Linked DNA regions of Homo sapiens. The protein of the gene in region 4 purifies or fractionates together with the protein of the main gene of each other region. This does not show direct contact. Each region holds a gene or a part of one and is shown on either strand. Other genes may lie near its edges.

Region 1 (3,500 bases), on a different chromosome or scaffold from region 4:
AGTCTCATTATGCTCATTTAATTTTTATTATCCGTATGTTGTCATATTTAGGTTATGTTCATTTTTTACCAGTTTTGTTAATCCCTAGTATTTTTTGTTTTTGAGACGGAGTCTCACTCTGTCGCCCAGGCTGGAGTGCAGTGGTGCAGTCTCGGCTCACTGCAACCTCTGCCTCCTGGGTTCAGGTGATTTTCCTGCCTCAGCCTCCAGAGTAGCTGGGATTACAGGCACCTGCCACCACACCCAGCTAATTTTTGTATTTTTAGTAGAGATAGGGTTTCACCATGTTGGCCAGGCTGGTCTCGAACTCCTGACCTAAGTTGATCCATCCTCCTCTGCCTCCCAAAGTGCTGGGATTACAGGCAGGAGCCACCGCACCCGGCCGTGTTTTTTGTTTATAAAAGAAAAAATTTCCAGAGTGCACTTTACTCCCTGATAGGAGACTAAATTACTTAAATATAAATTTTAGAAGGTACGTGTTAAATTAACCTAATGAATTAGTAGCATTCAGAAGTGTTTGTATCTGTTAAAGATTCAAAATATACAAACTAATTTCTTTTAATGGTGATTCTATTTCTAGTAAACTAAGGCAGAAATCATTATGCAGAAGAAACAGCACCCTGTTAACCATGTTCTTTTTATAAACCGTCTCTGTTCTCACTTTATTGTTAGGAAGGCGTAATCTGTTTTCATGTAATATAAGTACATGTGAGTCATGTTGAGTTTCTTCACTCATTTGTCCAATTCCCAGTCAACCTGTAGGTGGAGTTAACCTTTAGTTACATAATATAACGAAACAAACATTAAACCTACTGCTTCTGGGACAGTCTTCTCACCAAAACTCAGGGAAAATGGGAGGGTGTTGCCACTGACTGACTTAATGAAAGTATCTGACAAATGTAAGGTCTTTCAAATAGTGAGATAAGAAATGTATATAAATTATTTGATCGACTACTTACTTTCTATCTATACACACACACTATCAGTATATAATGTGTATTTTCATTTTATAGCTATTAAATATGAGGTTCTAGAATGAGTTTTCAGTTTGCAGAATTCTGAGAATCTAGTTCCAACACCTTTGAGAGGACAACAACCACAATTGCACTTGCCATATTTATTAGTCAAAATGAAGTGAAGTCAATCTGTTGAAAGCTTTGTTTTGTTTTTCTGATTAGTTTGTTTAATAAGACATTCAAATTATGATCTTTAATATAATTTCTTCCCCTAATAGCTTGGTGCTAACAGTGGTTTGCACATCATCATCTTTGATGAAATTGATGCCATCTGCAAGCAGAGAGGGAGCATGGCTGGTAGCACGGGAGTTCATGACACTGTTGTCAACCAGTTGCTGTCCAAAATTGATGGCGTGGAGCAGCTAAACAACATCCTAGTCATTGGTATGTTTACTTTTTAAAAAAGTACTATTCATTCAAAAACGTTAGCCATAAGTTCTGAATTAAGATGTGTGTAGGTTGTGATTAAACTGTTTTGCCAGTGTTTCCAAATTAGAATCCAGTGATATTGAAGAATCTATTGTAATGCCTAGGCTTAATAGGAAAAATAAAAGATGGATTTCAGTCACTTGTAGGTTTAAGCTTATAGCTCACCCACAGGTGAAAAAGATGTAGGTTGAAGCTTATAGCTCACCCAAAAATGAAAAATACACATGAAACAATGGAATGCAGTGGTTTTCAAACTGGGTCTTGCAGGCCTTCGGGGGTCCTCAGAGGTGCTTTCAGGGTCAGTGAGGGCCAGGGAGTGCGTTTCAGATCCTACATCACTATTATAACTTCCTCTTTTAGCTGTTTTATGTACTGAGGTGCTTCTGAAGATGACTTCTGGGGGAAAAAAAAAAAAAACACCCTGCTGTTTTATGAAGTCTGAAAACCACTGGCCTGTAAAAAAGAGAAGGAACTTTGGAGTCAGAGAGATCGTGTCACATTGCCCCTCTGTCACTTTGACAGATTATTTACCCTTTGAATCTTAAATTTTCTTTTTAAATACTGGAAGTTTTCATAACATTTATATTCCATTGGCTTATACAGTAGTGAAATAGTAAAGCAAAGTCTCCTTAGCTTGTTAGGGAAATTACTATTCTTACATATACTAAAAGGACATTTGATTTTATTTTTGAACTCTGATCATTTGTTGTTTTGTTTTAACATCTGTGTTCAGGAATGACCAATAGACCAGATCTGATAGATGAGGCTCTTCTTAGACCTGGAAGACTGGAAGTTAAAATGGAGATAGGTAAGGAGATCTGTCACTGATTGGGTGTGTGGTGGGGGGAGTGGAGGCATTTAGAGTTCATTAACAGGAACAATGTCATATGGTGTAGTATTTTTTAGAAAAGGTTTATATCATGAGAAGTAGATGTTTACATGCTTGAGTACCTATAAGGAAAACATTAGGATCATAATAATCTCCTCTAGGCTGGGCGCAGTGGCTCACACCTGTAATCCCAGCACTTTGGGAGGCTGAGGCAGGTGGATCACTTGAGGCCAGTTGTTCGAGACCAGCCTGGCCAAGATGGTGAAACCCCTTCTCTACTAAAAATACAAAAAACTTAGCCGAGTGTGGTGGTGTGCACCTGTAATTCCAGCTACTCGGAAGGCTGAGATAGGAGAATCGCCTGAATCCAGGAGGCAGAGGTTGCAGTGAGCTGAGATCGTACCACTGCACTCCAGCCTGGGAAACAGAGCGAGACTCTGTCTCAAAATAATAGTAATAATAATAATGATAATCTCCTCTGATGGTGCTTTCGAGACTAGGAAAATGCCTATTTTATTTTTAATTTCATCAGGCTTGCCAGATGAGAAAGGCCGACTACAGATTCTTCACATCCACACAGCAAGAATGAGAGGGCATCAGTTACTCTCTGCTGATGTAGACATTAAAGAACTGGCCGTGGAGACCAAGAATTTCAGTGGTGCTGAATTGGAGGGTCTGGTGCGAGCAGCCCAGTCCACTGCTATGAATAGACACATAAAGGTCAGGAAAATCAGCTAAACAGATTATAAACATTATGCCAGTATTCTTTCTCTTTCCTTTCAAGCATATCAAGGGGTAGGGAAATGCTGACTTTTGGTGGAGAAGAGATGGTAAAAGGAATAAGAATTAATTGTCAACTGCTAAATCTTCAGAGTAGCAGGAAGGAAGATAATGTTTGCATCTGCCCTGTAGTAACCACTGACTCATCTACCTTAGGTCATCACCATCTGACACAGACACGTAAAGTGAAAATTTTGAAGAAGTGTTTTTAAATCTTTGTATTGTATTAAAAGTTGTAATATGGCCAGGCATGGTGGCTCATGCCTGTAATCCCAGCACTTTGGGAGGCTGAGGCGGGCGGATCACAAGGTCAGGAGATCGAGACCATCCTGGCTAACACGGTGAAACCCCGTCTCCACTAAAAATACAAAAAATTAGCCGGGCATGGTGGCGGGCACCTGTAGTCCCGGCTACTCGGGAGGCTGAGGCAAGAGAATGGTGTGAAC
Region 2 (2,325 bases), on a different chromosome or scaffold from region 4:
GTTATAAGCAGGTAAAAGCATTTAATTGTCTTTTAGAGAGGTACTATAAGCTCACCGAAGTGAGAAACTTATCCTTTTCTCAATTTGTCATTACAACTTGTATACAGTAGATACCTGAGTATCTGTAGAACTGGCTAATTCCTGAAAGCCAAAACCTACTGTTATTAATAACACACAGATTAAAGTAAATTCAAATAAAAGTTTTCTTTTTCAAAATGGCAATAGTTAGGGAAAGTAAATACAGTATTTAAGAGGTGAAATGTTCTAATGACATTCTATTTGTTTAAAAACTTTTCTGTTTTCTTTTTTGTTTTGAGACAGGGTCTCGCTCTGTCATCCAGGCTGGAGGACAGTGGCATGATCTTGGCTCACTGCAACCTCTGCCTCCTGGGCTCAAGTGATCCTCTCACCTCAGCCTCCCAGGTAGCTGGGACTACAGGCACACAGCACCTTGCCCAGCCAAAATTTTTTTTATTTTTTGTAGAGATGGGGTTTTGCCATGTTGCCCAGGATAGTCTTGAACTCCTGGGCTCAAGTGATCTGTCTGCTTCGGCCTCCCAAAGTGCTGAAATTACAGGCGTGAGCCACCATGCCCGTACTGAAATTTCTATATTAATAAATGGTAGCTGTAATCTGAAGCTATCTCAAAGATTTTTAAATGCCGTTATTTATTATCTCCAAGCATGAAAACAAATCATGGTACATTTTAAAAGTTTACCTTTGCAAGTATGGCGTAGTAGACACATTATATTTAATTAAGCAACTTGTCCTCGTTTCTGTATTGGGGGTTTTAACATCATGGGTTGGATCTTTTGTTTTGTTGTCTTGCTCTTTTTCACAATCTTGAAATAGCAAATTTCTATGAAGTTTACTCTCCATTTCCAGTTTTTCTGGATCTACATCAACACCTGTATCTTCAATACTGACTTCTTTGACTTCTTCCTTGCTTGCACAAGACTTCTCCATATTTTCTCCTATAGAAAATACATTTATAGATTAAGCTTTTGGCTGAATTTTAAGAACAAAATCAGAAGACATTAAAGTTGTTCCTAGTTGGCCACATTTTCAAAATAAAAGAACACGATTGCCATCTCTGAACCATTCCTTTTCCTCAGCAAATACTGCTGCCAACTATATAACAAATACTATTATAAAATGAAATAAATGCTATATATGAAATAAGAACAAAGGATTATTAAAACCCACAAAAAGAAACAACTAACTTTGCCTGTGGTATAGGGAGATGGTTAGGGAATGCTTCACAAGCGAGATTTAGGCTGGGTCTTAAAAATGAGTACTTGATCAAGACCAAGGAAGACAACCTTCATATGGCACATAAAAGAAAATGATCTATTAAATTAACATAACATTAAAGAGCCAGTGTGTTTAGAATATAGGGTAAGGAACAAGGTTAGGAGTGGGAGCAGGAGGTATTGAGCTTAGATAGGTAAACAAGAGCTAGATTGTAATGAGCTTTATATGAAAGAAGTTTGGTAAAAAAAATTCACCAGAGAGCTAGATTGTAATGAGCTTTATATGAAAGAAGTTTGGTAAAAAAAATTCACCAGAGACAGACATAATTAAATTTGGTCAATGTAAAGGACTGTCTAGAATGGCAGAGAATGAAAAGTAACAATCTGTGATGGCAAGAAGACAAGGTTGTTGTAATAGCCTAAGTAAGTTAGGAAGAGATCAGATAGGAAAGGAAGGGTCCAATCTGAGAAATATTTCTGAGAACATTTTTTTTTTTTTTTTAGAGACAGGGTGTCTGCCGTTCTGTCACCTAGGATGGAGTGCAGTGGCATAATCTTAGCTCACTGCAGCCTCAACTTCCCAGGTTCAAGTGATCCTCCTGCCAAAGCCTCCCAAGTAGCTGGGCCTAAAGGTGTGTACCACCATACCCAGCTAATTTTTACTTTTTGTAGAGATGGGGTCTCACTATGTTGCCAAGGATGGTCTCGAATTCTAGACCTCAAGCGATTCTTCCACCTTGGACTTCTGGTGTTGGGATTATAGGCGTGAGCCACCACACCCACCCAAGTCAGAACTTATTAACAAATGAATACATGACTGTGTAGGAATGAGTGTGCAAATGTATTAGGAGCGTCTTATCCAACATTTCTTAAGAGTCATAAATGCCAGAGAAGAGTTTTTTCTTTTCTTTTTTGGGAGAAAGGGATGTTGGGTATGGGAAAGGGATACTGGGCATGGGAAAGCAGTGAGGGCAGACAAAGAGTTCAAAATAAAACATGTTAGGCTGGAAATACTTGTGAGACATCCTGGTGAATCCATTGAGCTGGAAAAAAAAACCTCTGAATTTAATTA
Region 3 (3,500 bases), on a different chromosome or scaffold from region 4:
CAGCGCTTGACCACGTCAAAGCTGCACTTCAGCAGGTGCTGTGGGCAACAGGACACATTAAGGGGCAGGTAGGAAGTGTCCCCATCACACATTCTGGGCCCAGTTCTGGTCTTCCCTCAGACACAGCTCAGGGGCTCGCCACTGTCCTGGTCCTCAGAGACCATGGACAAACTCAGGATGCTCCCACCCTCAATGTCCCTCCCCAAGGCATGGGTCAACACCATCCACCCACGACTCTCTTCAATCACCCCAGAGTTTCTTGGCTGTCTTCACTGAGAAGGGTGGGACTCTCAGGCTTACAGATACAGAAATACTTTATTTTGGCCAGGTGCGGTGGCTCACGCTTTGTAATCCCAGCACTTTGGGAGGCCGAGGCGGGTGGATCACTTGAAGTCAGGAGCTCAAGACCAGCCTGACCAACATGGTGAAACTACGTCTCTACCAAAAATACAAAAATCAGTTGGGCGTGGTGGTGCACACCTGCAATCTCAGCTACTCAGGTGGCTGAGGCATGTGAATCGCTTGAGCCAGGGAGGCAGAGGTTGCAGTGAGCTGAAATCGAGCCATTGCACTCCAGCCTGGGCAACAGAGTGAGACTCTGTCTCAAAAAAAAAAAAAGAAGAAAGAGAGGCCAGGCACAGTGGCTCACGCCTGCAATCCCAGCACTTTGGGAGGCCGAGGCGGGTAGATCATGAGGTCTGTAGTTCAAGACCAGCCTGGCCAAGATGATGAAACCCTGTCTCTACTAAAAACACAAAAATTAGCTGGGCACAGTGGCAGACGCCTGTAATCCCAGCTACTCAAGAGGCTGAGGCAAGAAAATCACTTGAACCCCGGCGGCAGAGGTTGCAGTGAGCCGAGATCGTGGCGCTGCACTCTAGCCTGGGTGACAGAGTGAGACTCCGTCTCAATCAAAAAAAAAAAAAGAAAGAAAGAAACACTTTCTTTTTTCCTACTGGAATGTGACTCTTAAATTTTCTTCAATTTTCTACCCCACCCCCAGCAGGGCTCCAGCAGCAACTACACACCAAGGAAGACACGAGGGCAGAGCTGGAGACACTGGGCACCTTGTCCACAATGGCTTGTTTCATGTAGCGCTCAATAGCCTGCAGCATGGTGCTCTGTGGGCAAAAGGAGCAGGGTGGAAGGAGATCCAGTCAGTCCTTGGCAGCTCTCAGGAGTGCAGGAATGGGGGCAGAGATGAGTATGAGGAGGAAGTAAGCGTTTCTCATGTGCTCCTGCACACTGCCTCCACCCCACATCACCTGGCTCAGTGATAGGGGACACCCCAAAGAATGCAAAAGATGATGCCGAGGCCTCAATCAAGAGGCCAGGAAGCAGGGAGGAACCGGCACGACTCACATCAGTGATCTGGCAGAGGGCTCGCACGGCCGGGCCCCGGTAGTTGTCTTCTTTCCCAGTCATGTCTTTTGTTAGGCTGCAGGGAAGAAGGCATTGTCAGCATGCAGAGAGCCTGGGCCTGTTTACTCCTCTCCAGCTCCCAACACCACCCTTGCCCAGATTACTACACGAGCCTCCTAACCAGTGCTCTCCCTCTATTCCTGCCCCTCCAAGCCTAACTCCACACAGCTGCTGGAGGGAGTTTCATAAGACTCAAAACCAAACAGGTCATCCCCCTGCTTTTGCTAAAAAGTTTCCATAGCTTCCTACTGCCAGTGACCTGAATGTAACTCCTTGAACTTCCCTAACTGGCTATGCTCACTCCTCTCCAGCCTTTGCATGTGCTGTTTCCTCAGCCTGTAGCATTCCTCACCCCTCACCTCCACTCTGTCCTACTCTTTTTTTTTTTGAGACAGAGTCTCGCTTTGTCGCCCAGGCTGGAGCGCAATGGGGTGCGATCTTGGCTCATTGCAACCTCTACATCCCGAGCTCAAGCTCTACTGCCTCAGCCTCCCCAGCAGCTGGGACTACAGGCACATGCCACCATACCCGGCTAATTTTTGTATTTTTAGTAGAGAGGGGGTTTCACTATGTTGGCCAGGCTGGTCTTGAACTCCCGACCTTGTGATCCACCCGCCTCGGCCTCCCAAACTGCTGGGATTACAGGCATGAGCCATCACTCCTGGCTTTTTTTTTTTTTTTTTGAGACGCAGTCTCGTTCTGTCACCCAGGCTGGAGTGTAAGTGGCATGATCTCAGCTCACTGCAACCTCCACCTCCCCAGTTCAAGCAATTCTCCTGCCTCAGCCTCCCCAGTAGCTGGGATTATAGGTGTGCGCCACCACACCTGGCTAATTTTTGTATTTTTAGTAGAAACGGGGTTTCACCATGTTGGCCAGGATGGTCTCAAACTCCTGACCTCAAGTGATCCACCCATCGCAGTCTGTGGATTACATTGTGGATACAGTGCTGGGATTACAGGCATGAGCCACTGCGCCTGTCCTGTCCTACTATTTCTTACTCATCCTTCAGGACTCCACTTAGATCATTCCTCTGGGAGGACTTTCGTAATTCTAATCAAGCTGGATGCTCTTCTGGTCTGCTCTCATAGCCCATAATACTTCCGTGATAAACTATATTACACCCTACCTTAATGGCCTGATGCCTGGTTATTTCTCTGTAAATTCTGGGGCTACAGAGGCCATGTCTATCTTTTTTGTTGCTATATCCCCAGAGCTACACACAGGGACTGACAGACAATATTTTCTAACTGAACCTACAAATCAATGTATGACCCCCACAACCTTAAACTGTGGCAGGAAGAAATAAGAGAACTGAGCCCCAGTTCTTAAGGGCAGTGATTACACTTTAGTCACATCTGTCCCTGAATTGCTTAGCTTAAAGCAGACACCAGTCACTTAGTAAGCAGTATACCGCTTGTACTCTCTTGTTTATTTTTCTTGTGTTCTCTCTTTATACTCAAGAAAGTCTTTGGGAAAGTTCTAAGCTGGTTTGGTTGACTAAGAGAAATCAAGAAAAGGAAGCATTTGTGTCCAAGTCAAGGTCAGAGAATTAAAATAGAAACAGCACACCTGGAGGCTGCCATGGGGTGGGCAGTGGTAACAGGGAAGCTGCCACGGGGTGGGCAGCTGGCAATATGCAACCAAGTCTCACTGTCTGGTACACACAAGAAAAAAATGGTCTGTCAATGGAACCCATCAGAAGAGCCACCCACAACCCCATGACTTGCCTGCTGGTGACAATGATGACATCCTCTGCAATGCAAGACATCTCCTTGATGGTCAAGTAGCACATCCGACGGAGTGTGGGCTGGGAGATAGGTGGGAAAAGCCCTATCAGCCCGGGCTCACCAAGGGCCAGAGTTGGGAGAAGATACCTCCTGTCTCCACAAAGGCAGCCCACACTGACTGGTGGGGCCAGCTCTCTTTGGCCCTCCCACCACCTTGTTACAGCTGCCACCTCTCAAGGAAAGCTGGGTTGAGGCACTTACATCATTGGACTGAAAGAGCTTGGTCATGGCAAAGAAGGCCTCGGTCGCTTCCGTGGTCCCCAGGTGCTCCCCCTGTGTTAATCAAGAAA
Region 4 (3,500 bases):
GCTTTCTTGCTTTGAGATTTTTGTTTCGGTACTCTTTGGGAGAGAATTCCTAAGAAGGTTTTTAGAATAAAATTGTCCTCAACCAGATTGACTAATTACACATTATAACTACAACTTGAATAACATTTAAAGAGTTGGTTATTTCTGTTTGATAGGTTGGTGCTGTTATATGTCAAGGCTTTTTAAATCGGTTTTAAGAAATAAGCATTATTTTGGTGGAGGTAGAAATTTCACAACATTCATAAGTTCTAAACATCTAGAAATGGTTGGAGGAAACATTTTCGTTTTGAAGATAGTTTCATTAAGTAATCCCTGCTGTGCTCCTTTGCTTACAGAAAAAAATGTTAAAGATAACTCAAAATAGGATAGTTGGTGTAATTATAATTCTCCTTACTTCAGCTTTCTCTTCATCCTTTTTATTCTTTAAGCTTGGGGGAAAATGTTTGGATGTTCTCGTATCTTAAAACTGGAGGAGAGAGGCTGGGCGCGGTGGCTCACGCCTTTAATCCCAGCACTTTGGGAGGCTGAGGCGGGCGGATCACGAGGTCAGGAGATCGAGACCATCCTGGCTAACACAGTGAAACCCCGTCTGTACTAAAAATACAAAAAAAAAAAAAAAATAGCCAGGCGTGGTGGTGGGCACCTGTAGTCCCAGCTGCTTGGGATGCTGAGGCAGGAGAATGGCGTGAACCCGGGAGGCAGAGCTTGCAATGAGCCGAGATTGTGCCACTGCATTCCAGCCTGGGTGACAGAGCAAGACTCTGTCTCAAAAAAAAAAAAAAAAACTGGAGAAGAGAGATCACCACCTTAATCCCCTTCCCTGCTGGGCTATCACATGAAACTGACCTCTGAGGTTCTAAGCCTAACCCGCCTACCACTGTTTTTATTCATAAATACTTAAATCCTTACCTCTGGATCCCAACTGTTACTCTTTTTTTCACTTCAAAATTTGCAAACTCATTTCTATCCATCAAACCCCGGAAATGGCCCAGGGGCTTCACAGTGCAGTCCCCTCCCTCCTGCTGCATCCGTTCCTCAGGCTGTGCCCCAGGTTGCATTCGTGGTGCGTGTTTTCTCCCAGGGCAGCCTTCCCCACATTCCACTCTTGTCATACTGTTGACTCACAAAATGGAAGTGGCTGAATGTTCCAGGGATAGTGTCTAAGAGCTATTGGTTTAAGGTTGAAACCTACACCAAGTAAGGCTTTGTGAAGGGAGATGACGAGAGTGAAGTTGTTGACAGTCTGAAGGTGAAGAGATTCCGAGGCTCAGTTCAGCACCGGGACCAGACCCGCCCAGATCCAGGGTAATTTGAGGTCTGTGTTTGGTGCTGATGGTTTTGCCCAGTGCACTCCACACCCTCTCCTTCTTAGCTGTCTCAGTTCTCTTCAGATGCCTTTGTTCTAACTTATGCTTCCCTCCCTTAAGAAGAAACATAGTTACTTGCAAGAATAACCATGCTCAAAAGTTACAAGTTGGCTTTGCTTCAAGTTATATGGTCTCCTAGCTTTTTCTATGTGGTATTTCCCCCCACACATGCCGTTGTCCTTTGTGTCCGAAAATACAGCAGAAACATTTGTTATCAGCCTGTTACGGTTTTTTTGTTTGCTTTTTGTTTGTTTTTATTTTTACTTTTTTTGAGACGGAGTCTTGCTTTGTCACCCAGACTAAAGTGCAGTGGCACAATCTTGGCTCACTGCATTTGAACCGTCTCCCAGGTTCAAATGATTATCCTGCCTCAGCCTCCCAAGTAGCTGGGATCACAGGCGCCCACCACCGCACCTGGCTAATTTTTCTGTTTTTAGTAGAGACGGGGTTTCGCCACGTTGGCCAGGCTGGTCTCGAACTCCTGACCTCAGGTGATCCACCTGCCTCTGCCTCCCAAAGTGCTGGGATTACAGGCATGAGCCACCGCGCCCGGCCCAGCCTGTATGTTTAAAAGAAAATGAGTCTGTAACCATCATTTATAGAACTTGTAGTTGTTGCTGTTTGTAGCTTCAAGTCCTTTCTCAAGAGTAAGCTGCAAACTGCCAACAGCAATCAAGCCTGTCCTGCTGCCACTGCCCGGCCCCACTGGGCCACCTGGAGGCAGAGTCCCGCCCACCTCAGTGTCAGCTTGGGATTTGATTTGCCGTTCCTGTTTTTGATTGACCCAATTCAGCTGCTAATGATAATAATACTATTATTGTTATTGAGGGTTTACATTTGTTGGGCTCTTACTGCTGCACAGGAGGCATTGTGCTGAGCGTTTCCATTGTTAGCCAGTTTAGTCCTCATAACACAAGTCTTTGAAGTAGAAACTATTATTAGCCCATTTTTAAAAGGGGAAATTGCAGCTTAGGAAGATTAAACAACTTGGCCAAGTGGGTGGCAGAGGTCGACGTGGCACCGTGCTTCTCATTAGCATACCACACTGCCCTTTCAACACATAGCTCGCACCTGCCTTCACCCTGGAAGCAGGTTTACAGCAGCCTGTGTTGGTGTCTGGGTTGCCATTTACAATGTGCCACCATTAGGCAACACTGCTGGAAGTCCCTGTGCCACGTGTCAGGTCCGCCCGGGCTGGCTGTCGTTCGTCTCTGGCGTCTTTGCCAGGCCTCACTGTGGCCTCTGTCGACCAGGGATTCTAAAAGTCCACTTCCCATTTATTTATCAGCACATTAGTGAACAGGGAGTCAAATGTGATGACCAGTTTTCTTTCCAGGTTGCTGCCAAGAGTTTGCTCTTTTGTTTTCTCACCGCAGTTTGTATAGAACCCTCCCAGTGTTCATATCTAAAAATTGGCAGTGCTTTCACATGATCAATTCCTAAAAGCATGTATGTTTCCTAGAAGGTCTTATTGTGTGTGTCCCCAGGGTAGTAACTGGCATACCTGGGTGACTCAACCCAGACTCATGACTTTCTTACCTGTCTGTTCAGATGAGAGGCTCTTGCTGTTTTCTGGATGAGTAATCTCCGTCATTGCTGAAGGTGAGGAGCTCAGCTCCTTCCTCTTAAAGTGAGTGGAGGGCAATTAAGTAACGTGGGAAGTCACGATTCTGAGGGAAAAAAATTCTGTATGGAGGTTTCTCTTTTGCCCTTTAGCAGAAGCTCCGTGGCCTCAGGAAGGTCATTTAATCTCTCTGGCTTTGCTTCTTCATCAGTGAAATACTGTTCTCCATTAAGAATTTACCCTGAGGTGCCTGGTCATAGTAGTAACTGTAGTGTCTACCTCTCAGAAGCTCTGTGAGGGTCAGATGAGGAAGAACATGTAGAAAGGATTTCCCAACTGTGAAGCTCTGTGTGAATTGAGGGCACACAGAGCTTCAGTATTACAAAGCATGACCTATTTCCAATGTCTGTTTCAACAAACTGCTGGTAAGGTGGGTTATAACACAGGCATCAGATACTAATAAAGGTTTGTGGCAGAAACCTCCCTTCAGATAAAGGTTCAATCCCTTAAATTGCAGTTAGAACTTTCAGGAACCTATCATACCCTAAGCATCACCATGCTTTGATAAA
Region 5 (3,500 bases), on a different chromosome or scaffold from region 4:
CTGGGGCTTGAAGAGCCGAGGGGGGCACAAGGCTTGGTGTGCAGAGCCCCGCATTTGGTGCTGGGTGCTTACCTGACCCCAACTCATAGCGGAACTCCAGGTGGCCGCCCACCATCGCCAGGGACACGAAGTCCTCCACAGGCCCGCTCTTCCCCCCGCTGAACAGCAGGACCCCGTCAGGGGCGAGTGGCTTGAACTCCACGTCCAGGCGTAGCTCGTGGTGTGTGTTGGTGAGGGCGGGCAGTGCCAGGTAGGAGCCAGCACCCGACAGCGAGGGGGTGGTCACTGTCACACCTGCAGCAGCCACAGCTCAGCTGAGGCAGTGGGGATCCTGGACCCTCGGGTGGGGTCCAGCTACTCTGCCTTCCTCTGGGACCCTTGCCTGCCTCACTCTCCAGGCCCAGAGGCTCAGGACCAGTTGGCACCAGCTGCAGTGGCACAGGAGCCCCCCTGCCCTTGCACACGGGGCTGGGAGGAGCTCCAATATGACAGGGGTCCTCTTTGGGGGCCCTCACTCAATAAGGGGCTCAGGCTGGGCAGACATGTGGCCAGGTGACTTCGAGATCCTCTGGCTTGGGAATCGTTTTATCATCCGTAGGGCCCATCATGGCCTCAGAGTGCCCCACCCAGCCTCCCCAGCTGACACTAGGACCCTGGGGGTCTCAGGCCTGGCTCCCCTCACCTTCCTCACACCGCAACCCCGAGCGGCCCAGGTGGCAGCGGCAGGTGTAGCCTCGACCGTCAGGCCGGTTCACACAGGTGGCGTCGGGCCCACAGGCCTCTGGGGGGCACATAGGCCAGTGAAAAGACACGGAGGTGACTCTGGAGGGAGGGGGGTCCTGATGCCAGAGGTCTGCCCATCACACCCCGGGGGGCTGGGCTAGTGAGGGCCAGGCCAGCCTCCTGGGAGGCCTTGGAGGAGGGAACTGAGCAGAGCAAGGCGGGAGCCAGAAGAGGCCACAGGGAGGACTGCAGGGGAAGCAGTCGAGGGACTCTGTGTGTCTGCAGGTTCTTCAGAGACTGGACAGTGTTGGAGGGGGAGCACCTGGTGGCGGGTAATGGGGTGGGCACCTGGGTAATAAGATGGGACTGGGGGCCGGGCGTGGGGGCTCATGCCTGTAATCCCAGCACTTTGGGAGGCCGAGGTGGGTGGATCACCTGAGGTCAGGAGTTCAAGACCAGCCATGGCCAACGTAGTGAAACCCCGCCTCTACTAAAAATGCAAAAAATTTAGCCAGGGGTGGTGGCAGACACTTGTATTCCCAGCTACTCAGGAGGCTGAGGCAGGAGAATCGCTTGAACCCGGGAGGTGGAAGTTGCAGTGAGCTGAGATCGTGCCACTGCACTCCAGCCTGGGCAACAAGAGCGAAACTTCGTCTCAAAAAAAAAAAAAAAAAAAAAAGATGGGCTGGGGGTGGGGGAGTGCCTGGGTGGCGGGGTAGTGGTAAGAATTTGGTCAGCAGGGCTGGAGGAGGGGAAGCAGCAGTGATGGGGTGAGGGCCTTCGGGTAGCAGAGATGGGGGATGGGTACATGGGAGGAGTGGAGAGTGCTCAGGTGAGAGTGGGGGGTGTGGAAGTGCCCCAGTGGTTGAGATGGTGGTGGATATGGGGAGGCAGCAAAGGGAAGAGGCAGGCCCTGGGGCGACAGCGACTGGCGGTCGGGGTGCGTACCTGGATGGCAGTGCAGGGCCTGCGAGTGCTCACAGCGGCTCCCGGTGAAGCCAGCTGGGCAGACGCACACGTAGCTGCTGCTCTCAGAGTCATGGCACTGACCGCCATTCTGCAAAGCAGCCCCCAGAAGTAAGGCCGAGAACATTCAGTACCCCCCATAATCCCCACAGGGGCCAGCCATGGCTAGGGGTGGAGGCCACGGCAGCCAGGTGGTGTGTGGGGTGTGGGGTCACCTGGCAGGGCCGGTCCCGACAGGTGGGGCAGTGGGAGATGCCGTGCGCCGTGAGGTTGAGGTCATGGAAGACGATCTCCTCGCCCTGGATGCGCAGCTCCCGGACACAGCCTGGGAGGTGAGTGGGCAGGATGAGCACAGGGCAGGGTGTCCCAGCCCATACCCTGAGGTGCCCTCCCAGGCTCTCCAGGGCTCTTCCAGCCAGCCAGGTAAGGCCCAGCCTCAGCTGGAGGTGGGGAGGGGGCTCACCTATGAAGCCGCTGCTCAGCCCCGCCTTGGGGATGGCACCATAGTCAGGATAGCCACCCAGGTAGAGTTCCTCGTTCAGATCCAGGCCCTGGAACTTGCCCTGGGGAGGTGGGGAAGTCAGGAATGGCAACAGAGGCTGGGCAAGGGCGGGATGAGGGCTGGAAGTAGCAGTATGGGGTTGGGTCTCACCTGGGAGGTCCCATTGACCGGGGCCAGGTCACCCACAATCAGGGAGCCCTGGGTGAGGCTGCGCAGCAGGGTCACGGTGTGGAAATGGCCCAGGGCCAGTGGTGTGGGATGGCGGATGGTGGCCATGCCTGAGCCTGCATCGAACCTGCTCCGTGGGGCAGGCCGGGGCAGGAGAGAGTGGATAGGGGGTTTGTAAGAAGGGCTAGGGGCCCAGTTGGGTAGAGGGGTCCCAGAGGAGGGATGTCACCACTTCCTGCAGTCCCAGCCCTGGGGCTGTTCCCGTTCCTGTCCCTGTCTTGTCGTCCCTCCCCGTGACCCATCCCCTGGATCTTCTCTCCCCACATCCTTTTGCTGGGAGCTTTCCCAGAGCAGCCCACAGGGACCCCAGGCTCAGCGCCCTGCAGCCTAGCACCTGGCCTCCTTGTTCCTCTGAGGACTCCTCTCTCCCTGTGATCACCTTGTTTCTCTGTTTATGGCTTGTTTATTCTTCCCCAGTGAGAATACACCTCTTCCCACAAGAGCCAGAATTTGGTCTGTTTTGTTTTACCTGTATCAGTGCCTGGCACACATGGGGTGGTCAGCAAATAACTGATGCATGCATGCATGAATGAATGAATGAATGAATGAATCCTGGCCTGCAGCAGTCCCAAGTCTGAGGTTGCACCCTCCTCCACCTGACTGGCATACTATTCCTACTCTAGCAGATTGGGTGGTCACCAAGGGTAACGGCCACATTTTCTCCTTCCTCCAGATCTCCTTTGTATAATGGAGCCCAGGGTAGCACTTGCCAGACCAAAGCCCTGTGTCCAGTCCCCCTGTAGGTGGGGAGGCTGGGGGTCTCACCGGAACTCGGGCCTTCCCCCCACGAGGCCGAAGGAGATGAAGTCGGGCTGCCGGTTGGCCAGGTTGGTGGGGCTCCCTGGGACTCGCTTCTGCCCATTGTACAGCAGCATCCCTGGGTGGGCACCACTGTGTAAGGGGCCCCCTTCCAGCCACAGGCTCCCTGTCCTCCCCCACCCTAGAAACCACCCAAGCTCTTGAGCCTGTCCACTCTCGGAACCTGTCCCTCCCTCTGGCACTCCTCACACAGCCAGGGCCTTCTCACTATCTCAGGGCTGGTGCCCCAAACGCAAGGGCCTTACTGAGCGCCCCTAGAAAG
Region 6 (3,500 bases), on a different chromosome or scaffold from region 4:
GAAAAATCACTTGAAACCGGAAGGCGGAGGTTCCAATGAGCCAAGATCGTGCCACTACACTCCAGCTTGGGTGAAACAGCGAAACTCCATCTCAAAAACAAAACACAAAAAGGCCAGGTACGGCTCACGCCTATAATCCCAGCACTTTAGGAGGCCCAGGCAGGCGGATCACCTGAGGTCGGGAGTTTGAGACCAGCCTGACCAACATGGAGAATCCCCATCTCTACTAAAAATACAAAATTAGCTGAGCGTGGTGGCGCATGCCTGTAATCCCAGCTATGTGGGAGGTTGAGGCAGGAGAATCGCTTGAACCCAGGAGGCGGAGGTTGCGGCGAGCCAAGATCATGCCATTGCACTCCAGCCTGGGCAACAAGAGCAAAACTCCATCTCAAAAAACAAACAAAAACAACCCCAAAAAACCTAATATGCCTAATGTGAGCAAGGCTCTTGCTAGAAACTGTATACAAGGGTAGAGAGACATGATTCCTGCCCTCCAAGTGTTTACAATCTAATTGTAGACACTTGAGAACTATCTTCTGCCTATTTCAAAAACAGTCTTGGGGAGCAGGCAATAGTCACTACTATTTTCGTTCTGCGCACACACGTTTACTCGGTGGGTTATGTTCACTCTTTGTCCAGCTTACTTACTTATGAGACTTTTTCACGTTGGTGCCATCAGGTCCCTTCCCACAATCATAGGCCTGGATGGTGAATGAATAGTCTTTCTGCAGCTCACAGTCCAGTTTCTCTTTGGAGCGAATGACTCCCTCACCAGTGGATTTATCCACTACCACTGCATCAAAGGGGACATTCTGCCCGTGAATTTTAAATCCACAAATCTCACCTAGGGAGTCAAAGCAGAACAGGTAAGAATTCCTACCACATAGATCTTCTGCACCTTGCCCTCCTCCCCCCATCTCCACCCCCAAAGAAAATAAATGACAACAATTTGGCAGCCAGGGGTTTGGAGGGTCCGTGGACAAAGCAGGGGCACTGTGTTTTAAACATGGGGAAGTTCTCGGGCTTTAGTAAGATGAAGCAGATTCTGGCTTTCCAAGCAACTTGTTTACTTTGCATCCATTCATGCAGGAATACAAAAGAGAGAGAGAAGAAAATATAGACAGGCATTCCACAGGAGCACTTAGATAGCTCGAGGGTAAAAGGAGTCTCATTAGCACACAGCCAGGCCTGAGAACACCAGCGCTGCCCCAGCTCCTGGGAGGGCTGGCAGCCAGTTTGATTTGGACCAGAGAGAAGCTAAAACGCAGTTATGTGTTGAGAGAGGAGGAAGCGTGAGATATAGGATCAGCACCGTAATTACAGAAATTCTGTCAAAAAAAAAAATCAAAGGAAACAAGTCTTCCTGTGCAATGAGCCTGGCTAAAATTAGGGAATCAAAACAAACTACTCAATGAGAAAGGTAGAAATACCGACTCGTCAGGCATCCATTTCAACAGCTATTTTATCATCTACGATTCAGACACAGTTTCTATTATGGGAGGGACTGGCTAGACTTGCCTTTGTTTCGGACTTTATCCTATCAAACCTGAAAAAGACACCAGCCTGGGAACTTCTCTACATCTAAATTGGCTCACAACTTAATTAGGAGTTAAAAATCTATGTTTCCATTCTTGTCCATGGGAGAACAGTATAAATGTTTTGATGTCGATGTGAAACTCCACAAAATGTATTTCACATGAAAATAAGACTGCACTCCTTCCACAATTCCAACTAATAGAAAATTGTTATAAAGCAAATCTCTGAAGTTCTATTAAACAAAAATGTACAGTGTTATCCATACAGTTCAAATGGATGTCTGATTTCCAGATATTTCTAACCAAGGGTCTGGTTACATACAATTTCCATCAATATACTTTAAAATAGAAACAAAGTAGGAGAATAAATAAGGATAAAAGAGCATGACAGTTTCTCCTGTTTAAGGGCTGATTCCCAATTTTATAAACAAAGTTAGTGGGTTAATATTCATAAGAGGGGAAGAAAGAACCCTTTATCACCTTCTTTGGTGACTGTCACCTCAAAACTCTCTAAAGGGAGAAAAGATAAGCCCATGTCAGTAATACAGGAAAGAATGAAGATGGAATACACTAAGGAAAAAAGTCAAAGGTGCACATATTACACATTTCCACACCAAGCTCAGCGACCGGCTTCTACGATTGCTACAGCAAAACCTAATCTTCAGGAACAAAATGTCACTTTGAATCCAACTTACCATGAACTACTGCATAATTCTGAAGTTATTAATTTAGGGATGAAATACTCCTACATGAAGTGTCCTAACACCCTCAGGGGTCATTAGGATTTTTCTTTTTTTTGAGACAGAGTCTCGCTCTGTCACCCAGGCTGGAATGCAGTGGTGCTATCTCGGCTCACTGCAAGCTCCGCCTCCTGGGTTCACCATTCTCCTGCCTCAGCCTCCCGAGTAGCTGGGACTACAGGCGCCCGCCACCACGCCCGGATAATTTTTTGTATTTTTAGTAGAGACAGGGTATCACCATGTTAGCCAGGATGGTCTCGATCTCCTGACCTCGTGATCCGCCCACCTCGGCCTCCCAAAGTGCTGGGATTACAGGAGTGAGCCCCCGTGCCCGGCAGGATTTTTCTTTTAATGAACACTCTAGTGACAAACCATGAATAAGTACATCTATTTGTTATTTTGCAGTTTTCAGATGTTCATTTCCAACCTAAATTCTCTCAGCTAGATTCTGGTAACATTCAACTCATCAGTAGATTTAATGAAACAAAAATTTGGAGCAAAAGGTTTTTTTTTTTTTTTGAGATGGAGTCTTGCTCAGTCGCCCAGACTGGAGTGCAGTGGCGTGATCTCGGCTCACTGCAAGCTCCGCCTCCCTGGTTCACGCCATTCTCCTACCTCAGCCTCCCGAGTAGCTGGGACTACAGGCGCCCGCCACCACGCCCAGTTAATTTTTTGTATTTTTAGTAGAGACAGGGTTTCACCATGTTAGCCAGGATGGTCTCGATCTCCTGACCTCATGATCCACCCGCCTCGGCCTCCCAAAGTGCTGGGATTACAGGCGTGAGCCACCGCACCCAGCCGAACAAAAGGTTTTAACCCTTTGTTCTTGAACTGAAAAAAATGACAATATTTTTCTAATCCAAAGTACCCAACCAAGGCAACAAATATAAACCCCTCTGCTAATGGAACATCTGCTTAAATGTGAATAGAAACCAGATTCAAAACTAACTGTAGGGATGCTACAACAGTCACTGTTCTCATTACATGAAAGCTCTGTTCTACCAAGTCAATATATATCCTGCTTATAAACCCTTTACTATGGAGGAGTGGAAATGTGAAGAGATCAGGAATTTCGCTGCCCCTCAACACACTGGGCCCTCACTGGTGGCACCTTCTCTCCCCCAAAGGTAACACGACCTGAATTCCCTTGCTTTGCTAATAGTGCTACCATTTATTCTCCCTGAACAGTGTTGTTTCATTTTGCTTGGTTTTAAGGTTTTAAAAA
Region 7 (3,500 bases), on a different chromosome or scaffold from region 4:
CACTGTGCATAGACTCATGAGGGAAAAGTCAGCTTGTCTTCCTTGTTCCTTTAAACAAAGTATCAGATCTTGATTCTGCAGGCTTTTGTTTCATTGTAAAGAGAACTGATCCTCTGTGCTAGGAGAAAAGAGAAAGGCAAGGTCCCATTCCCTACCACTCCACCCTGGAGGGGGTCTCTGAAGCTTTTTCTAGGACTCCCATCTCAGGTTCTGCTTTTGATACAGGCTTGTTCATGTGTGCATGCTCTTAGGAGGGCACCAAGATGTGTTTTCCCCCTCTCCCTTTTCAGCCTTGCTAAGAATTCTATTGTAAATGCTGATTTGTGGGAGAAACTGCCTGAGCCAGCTTGCTGTCATGGCAACTGTACACCCCCGCCCCATAGCCTGTTATCTTCTACTCCAGTTTGGGTAACTACTGGTGAGCTGCATGATGTCTTACATTTCATGAGCTTCCTCTAAATCTAGTTGTATTTTTCGTCTGAGGGGGGTAAGTCATTTTACTAGCAGTGTCTCCTAGGTCTTGCCTGATAGCCTGACTTGCTCTTGATCCATGGCCTTGTTGGGTTTGTGAGGAGAAATGTGTGTTGTTACAGAGAACATCTATTTTTCTGGAAGAGGCAGAAGCAGAGAATACTTGTCTTTGTGGTGTTTTGAGTAGTGTAGTTAGAGGCACAAATGGTTTCTTAATGATTTCAGCTTATGTTGACTTCTCGATTTTCTTTGCCTGGTGGCTAGATTGTAGCCCCAGCCCTCTGCTTCCCTTCCTAGTCTCTTCAGCTTCTCATGTTTGTATGTGGAAGTTTTTGTGCCAGTCCTGATGGTTAAAAAGGAGTCTTTTGGTCTATATTCTTCCTCATCGGAGCTAGTGGCCCAGGCTGTTTCTATAGCTGCACCAACTCCTGCCTGCCAGGAAGAAATCAGGGTAATAGAATTCAGGCACAATCTGGGCTATAGAAGAGAGATCGTGTTTACCAGGCACTTGGATAAGCATCTGAACTGGGTGGTGTGCGGGGCATATTAAATTCTTGTATACTGTTGCAGTCAGGGTACCTCCCACCAGTAAAGGTAGCGGGGAGGCAGTCATGGAAAGAGGTTTTCCTACCATTAGAATTTATCCATCCACCTGCAGGCTGCCTCCTTCTTTCCTTGTTTCTTAGAGAAAACCCATCCAGGATGGGTTTACTTGGACTCTAACCTATATACTTCATTGTGAGATGGAGGCCAGGGGGAAGATTGTCGCTGTATTAGAGGGTGAAGCTAAGGGGATGGCTGGAGGAATAGAAAGGAGAAAATTCAGAAATTTGGAGGAATGGTAGTGGGTGTGGTGGAAATGTTCTTTCTTTTTTGTAAAGCTATCAAAGCAGATAATTTTAGCCAGAAGCAGCTCCTTGTAGCCAACTTAAAAAAGGAGTACGGGGGCACAAGTTGAAGGGCTGGTGAGTAGGCATCCCAACAATATTCCATTCTTTTGCTTTCCAGTCTGGAAGGCTATTCTGGAAGACATTCCCTTGGCTAGTTATTCTTCTGATGTGTTAGGGTAAAGTGATCATAGGAATAACGGTTTGAGTTAAGCAGCAATTAATAGGTAATCCAGGATTCCCTCTTTTTTTTTTTTTTTTTTTGAAATGGAGTTTCACCGTGTTGCCCAGGCTGGAGTGTAGTGGCGCAATCTCAGCTCAGTACAACCTCTGCCTCCCGGGTTCAAGGGATTCTTCTGCCTCAGCCTCCCGAGTAGCTGGGACTAGAGGTACGCGCCACCACACCTGGCTAATTTTTGTATTTTTTATTAGAGTCAGGGTTTCACCATATTGGCCAGGCTGGTCTCAAATTCCTGACCTCATGATCCACCCGCCCCAGCCTCCCAGAATACTGGGATTACAGGCATGAGCCACCACACCCAGTCAGGATACCCTCTTTAAGAAACCTTGCTTTTTTTTTTTTTTTTTTCCTGCTTTATGAGACACTTGAAAGGTTACTGAGGATGAGACATGCCTCCAAGCCAGAGCTCAGGCAGAAGGAACCCTTCATTGACTTTCTTTTCTGACTCCAGTGTGTTGAGGAATTTGAACTGAGTCCAGGAAGTGGGTGGTACTAACTCACTGGGCTGGGCAAGGAACTGAGTTTTAAAACACTCTTCCTGTGGAACATATGGGAGTTCGTTGATGGGAAAGGGAGGAAATATATATATATAAAGTTATGTCTGCTAGATCTTTTAACAGCTGAGCTAAGACAAGTTCTACCCTGCGAGACTCTGGCTTTTTCATGGTAGTCAACCCTGATCTTAATGTCATAGTTATTTCTTCTTTTCTCCATGCCTCTGCTTCCCTTGTCCATTCTTTCCTTCAAATGCAGGCTGAGGCTGAGGTGGCCTCCTTGAACCGTAGGATCCAGCTGGTTGAAGAAGAGCTGGACCGTGCTCAGGAGCGCCTGGCCACTGCCCTGCAAAAGCTGGAAGAAGCTGAAAAAGCTGCTGATGAGAGTGAGAGGTGTGTAGGGAAGCCTGATGGAGTGTGGATTTTAAAAGTTCATAATAGTTCTGATCAAGATTTCCTTATAGACCTGTTTTCTAAATAGCAATTCTGGCTGCGTGTGATGGCTCACGCCTGTAATCCCAGCACTTTGGGACGCTGAGGCAGGAGGGTGGCTCAAGCCCAGGAAGTTGGGGCTACAGTGAGCTCTGATTGCGCCACTGCACTCCTGGGTGACAGAGAAAGACCCTGTGTCAATCAGTCAATAAAAATAAAATACTAACTCCATCACACAGGATCTCCTTTCTATTCTGCATATTCTGTCCCCTTGAAGACAGTAAGGGTAACTTAGATGTTGTGACCCTTTTGTAATTGGTATTTCCTTACAAATTGGCCTAATGATCCTTAAAATGGGATCACCAGTATGACTTCTACTTTCTGGATCATAAGCTTCTATTTGTGAGATTAATTTCTCTAAAACAGAGGTTCTCTAAGTAAGGTCTCAGACCAGCAGCATCAGCAATACTTGGGAACTTGGTAAAAATTCACATTCTCAGCTCCTATGCTGATCTGCTGAATCAGAAACTTTGGATGTGGGGCCTGGCAATCTGTTTTTAGTAAGCCTTCTCAACGCTGGTTGCATTATTAGAATCATAGGTAGGGGTGAGGGGGGAAATCACTGGGGAATTTAAAACTGGATGCTTAGATCTCATCCCAGTTCCATTAGAATCAGTTGCAAGAGGGGTCTGGGCATTGATGTTTTTAAAGTTCTCCAGCTAATTTTTTTTTTTTTTTTTTTTTTGAGACAGAGTCTCGCTCTATAGCCCAGGCTGGAGTGCAGTGGCGCAATCTGGGCTCACTGCAAGCTCCGCCTCCCGGGTTCACGCCATTCTCCTGCCTCAGCCTCCCAAGTAGCTGGGACTACAGGTGTCCGCCACCACGCCCGGCTAATTTTTTGTATTTTTAGTAGAGACAGGGTTTCACCGTATTAGCCAGGATGGTCTTGATCTCCTGCCTTTGTGATCCTCCCGC

The links.
Region 1: the proteins of INSIG1 (region 4) and NSF purify together in Homo sapiens (affinity purification with mass spectrometry, with the first as the bait; one large-scale study listed by BioGRID). This does not show direct contact.
Region 2: the proteins of INSIG1 (region 4) and CKAP2 purify together in Homo sapiens (affinity purification with mass spectrometry, with the first as the bait; one large-scale study listed by BioGRID). This does not show direct contact.
Region 3: the proteins of INSIG1 (region 4) and COPG1 purify together in Homo sapiens (affinity purification with mass spectrometry, with the first as the bait; one large-scale study listed by BioGRID). This does not show direct contact.
Region 5: the proteins of INSIG1 (region 4) and HSPG2 purify together in Homo sapiens (affinity purification with mass spectrometry, with the first as the bait; one large-scale study listed by BioGRID). This does not show direct contact.
Region 6: the proteins of INSIG1 (region 4) and CLSTN1 purify together in Homo sapiens (affinity purification with mass spectrometry, with the first as the bait; one large-scale study listed by BioGRID). This does not show direct contact.
Region 7: the proteins of INSIG1 (region 4) and TPM3 purify together in Homo sapiens (affinity purification with mass spectrometry, with the first as the bait; one large-scale study listed by BioGRID). This does not show direct contact.

What each region holds. Positions count from the first base shown.
Region 1 is NC_000017.11:46,691,669-46,695,168, forward strand, and holds part of NSF (vesicle-fusing ATPase), read left to right. Parts: intron 1-1,234; coding exon 1,235-1,400; intron 1,401-2,178; coding exon 2,179-2,253; intron 2,254-2,806; coding exon 2,807-2,994; intron 2,995-3,500.
Region 2 is NC_000013.11:52,472,478-52,474,802, reverse strand, and holds part of CKAP2 (cytoskeleton-associated protein 2), read right to left. Parts: intron 975-2,325; coding exon 719-974; intron 1-718. UniProt on the Homo sapiens protein: Possesses microtubule stabilizing properties. Involved in regulating aneuploidy, cell cycling, and cell death in a p53/TP53-dependent manner.
Region 3 is NC_000003.12:129,252,606-129,256,105, reverse strand, and holds part of COPG1 (coatomer subunit gamma-1), read right to left. Parts: intron 3,484-3,500; coding exon 3,412-3,483; intron 3,231-3,411; coding exon 3,151-3,230; intron 1,439-3,150; coding exon 1,363-1,438; intron 1,122-1,362; coding exon 1,029-1,121; intron 39-1,028; coding exon 1-38. UniProt on the Homo sapiens protein: The coatomer is a cytosolic protein complex that binds to dilysine motifs and reversibly associates with Golgi non-clathrin-coated vesicles, which further mediate biosynthetic protein transport from the ER, via the Golgi up to the trans Golgi network.
Region 4 is NC_000007.14:155,304,378-155,307,877, forward strand, and holds part of INSIG1 (insulin-induced gene 1 protein), read left to right. Parts: intron 1-3,500. UniProt on the Homo sapiens protein: Oxysterol-binding protein that mediates feedback control of cholesterol synthesis by controlling both endoplasmic reticulum to Golgi transport of SCAP and degradation of HMGCR.
Region 5 is NC_000001.11:21,829,311-21,832,810, forward strand, and holds part of HSPG2 (basement membrane-specific heparan sulfate proteoglycan core protein isoform b precursor), read right to left. Parts: intron 3,297-3,500; coding exon 3,185-3,296; intron 2,487-3,184; coding exon 2,342-2,486; intron 2,253-2,341; coding exon 2,153-2,252; intron 2,015-2,152; coding exon 1,905-2,014; intron 1,781-1,904; coding exon 1,672-1,780; intron 782-1,671; coding exon 683-781; intron 295-682; coding exon 73-294; intron 1-72. UniProt on the Homo sapiens protein: Integral component of basement membranes. Component of the glomerular basement membrane (GBM), responsible for the fixed negative electrostatic membrane charge, and which provides a barrier which is both size- and charge-selective.
Region 6 is NC_000001.11:9,754,466-9,757,965, forward strand, and holds part of CLSTN1 (calsyntenin-1 isoform 1 precursor), read right to left. Parts: intron 2,046-3,500; coding exon 2,016-2,045; intron 845-2,015; coding exon 649-844; intron 1-648. UniProt on the Homo sapiens protein: Postsynaptic adhesion molecule that binds to presynaptic neurexins to mediate both excitatory and inhibitory synapse formation.
Region 7 is NC_000001.11:154,175,101-154,178,600, reverse strand, and holds part of TPM3 (tropomyosin alpha-3 chain), read left to right. Parts: intron 1-396; exon of another isoform or gene 397-487; intron 488-2,352; coding exon 2,353-2,486; intron 2,487-3,500. UniProt on the Homo sapiens protein: Binds to actin filaments in muscle and non-muscle cells. Plays a central role, in association with the troponin complex, in the calcium dependent regulation of vertebrate striated muscle contraction.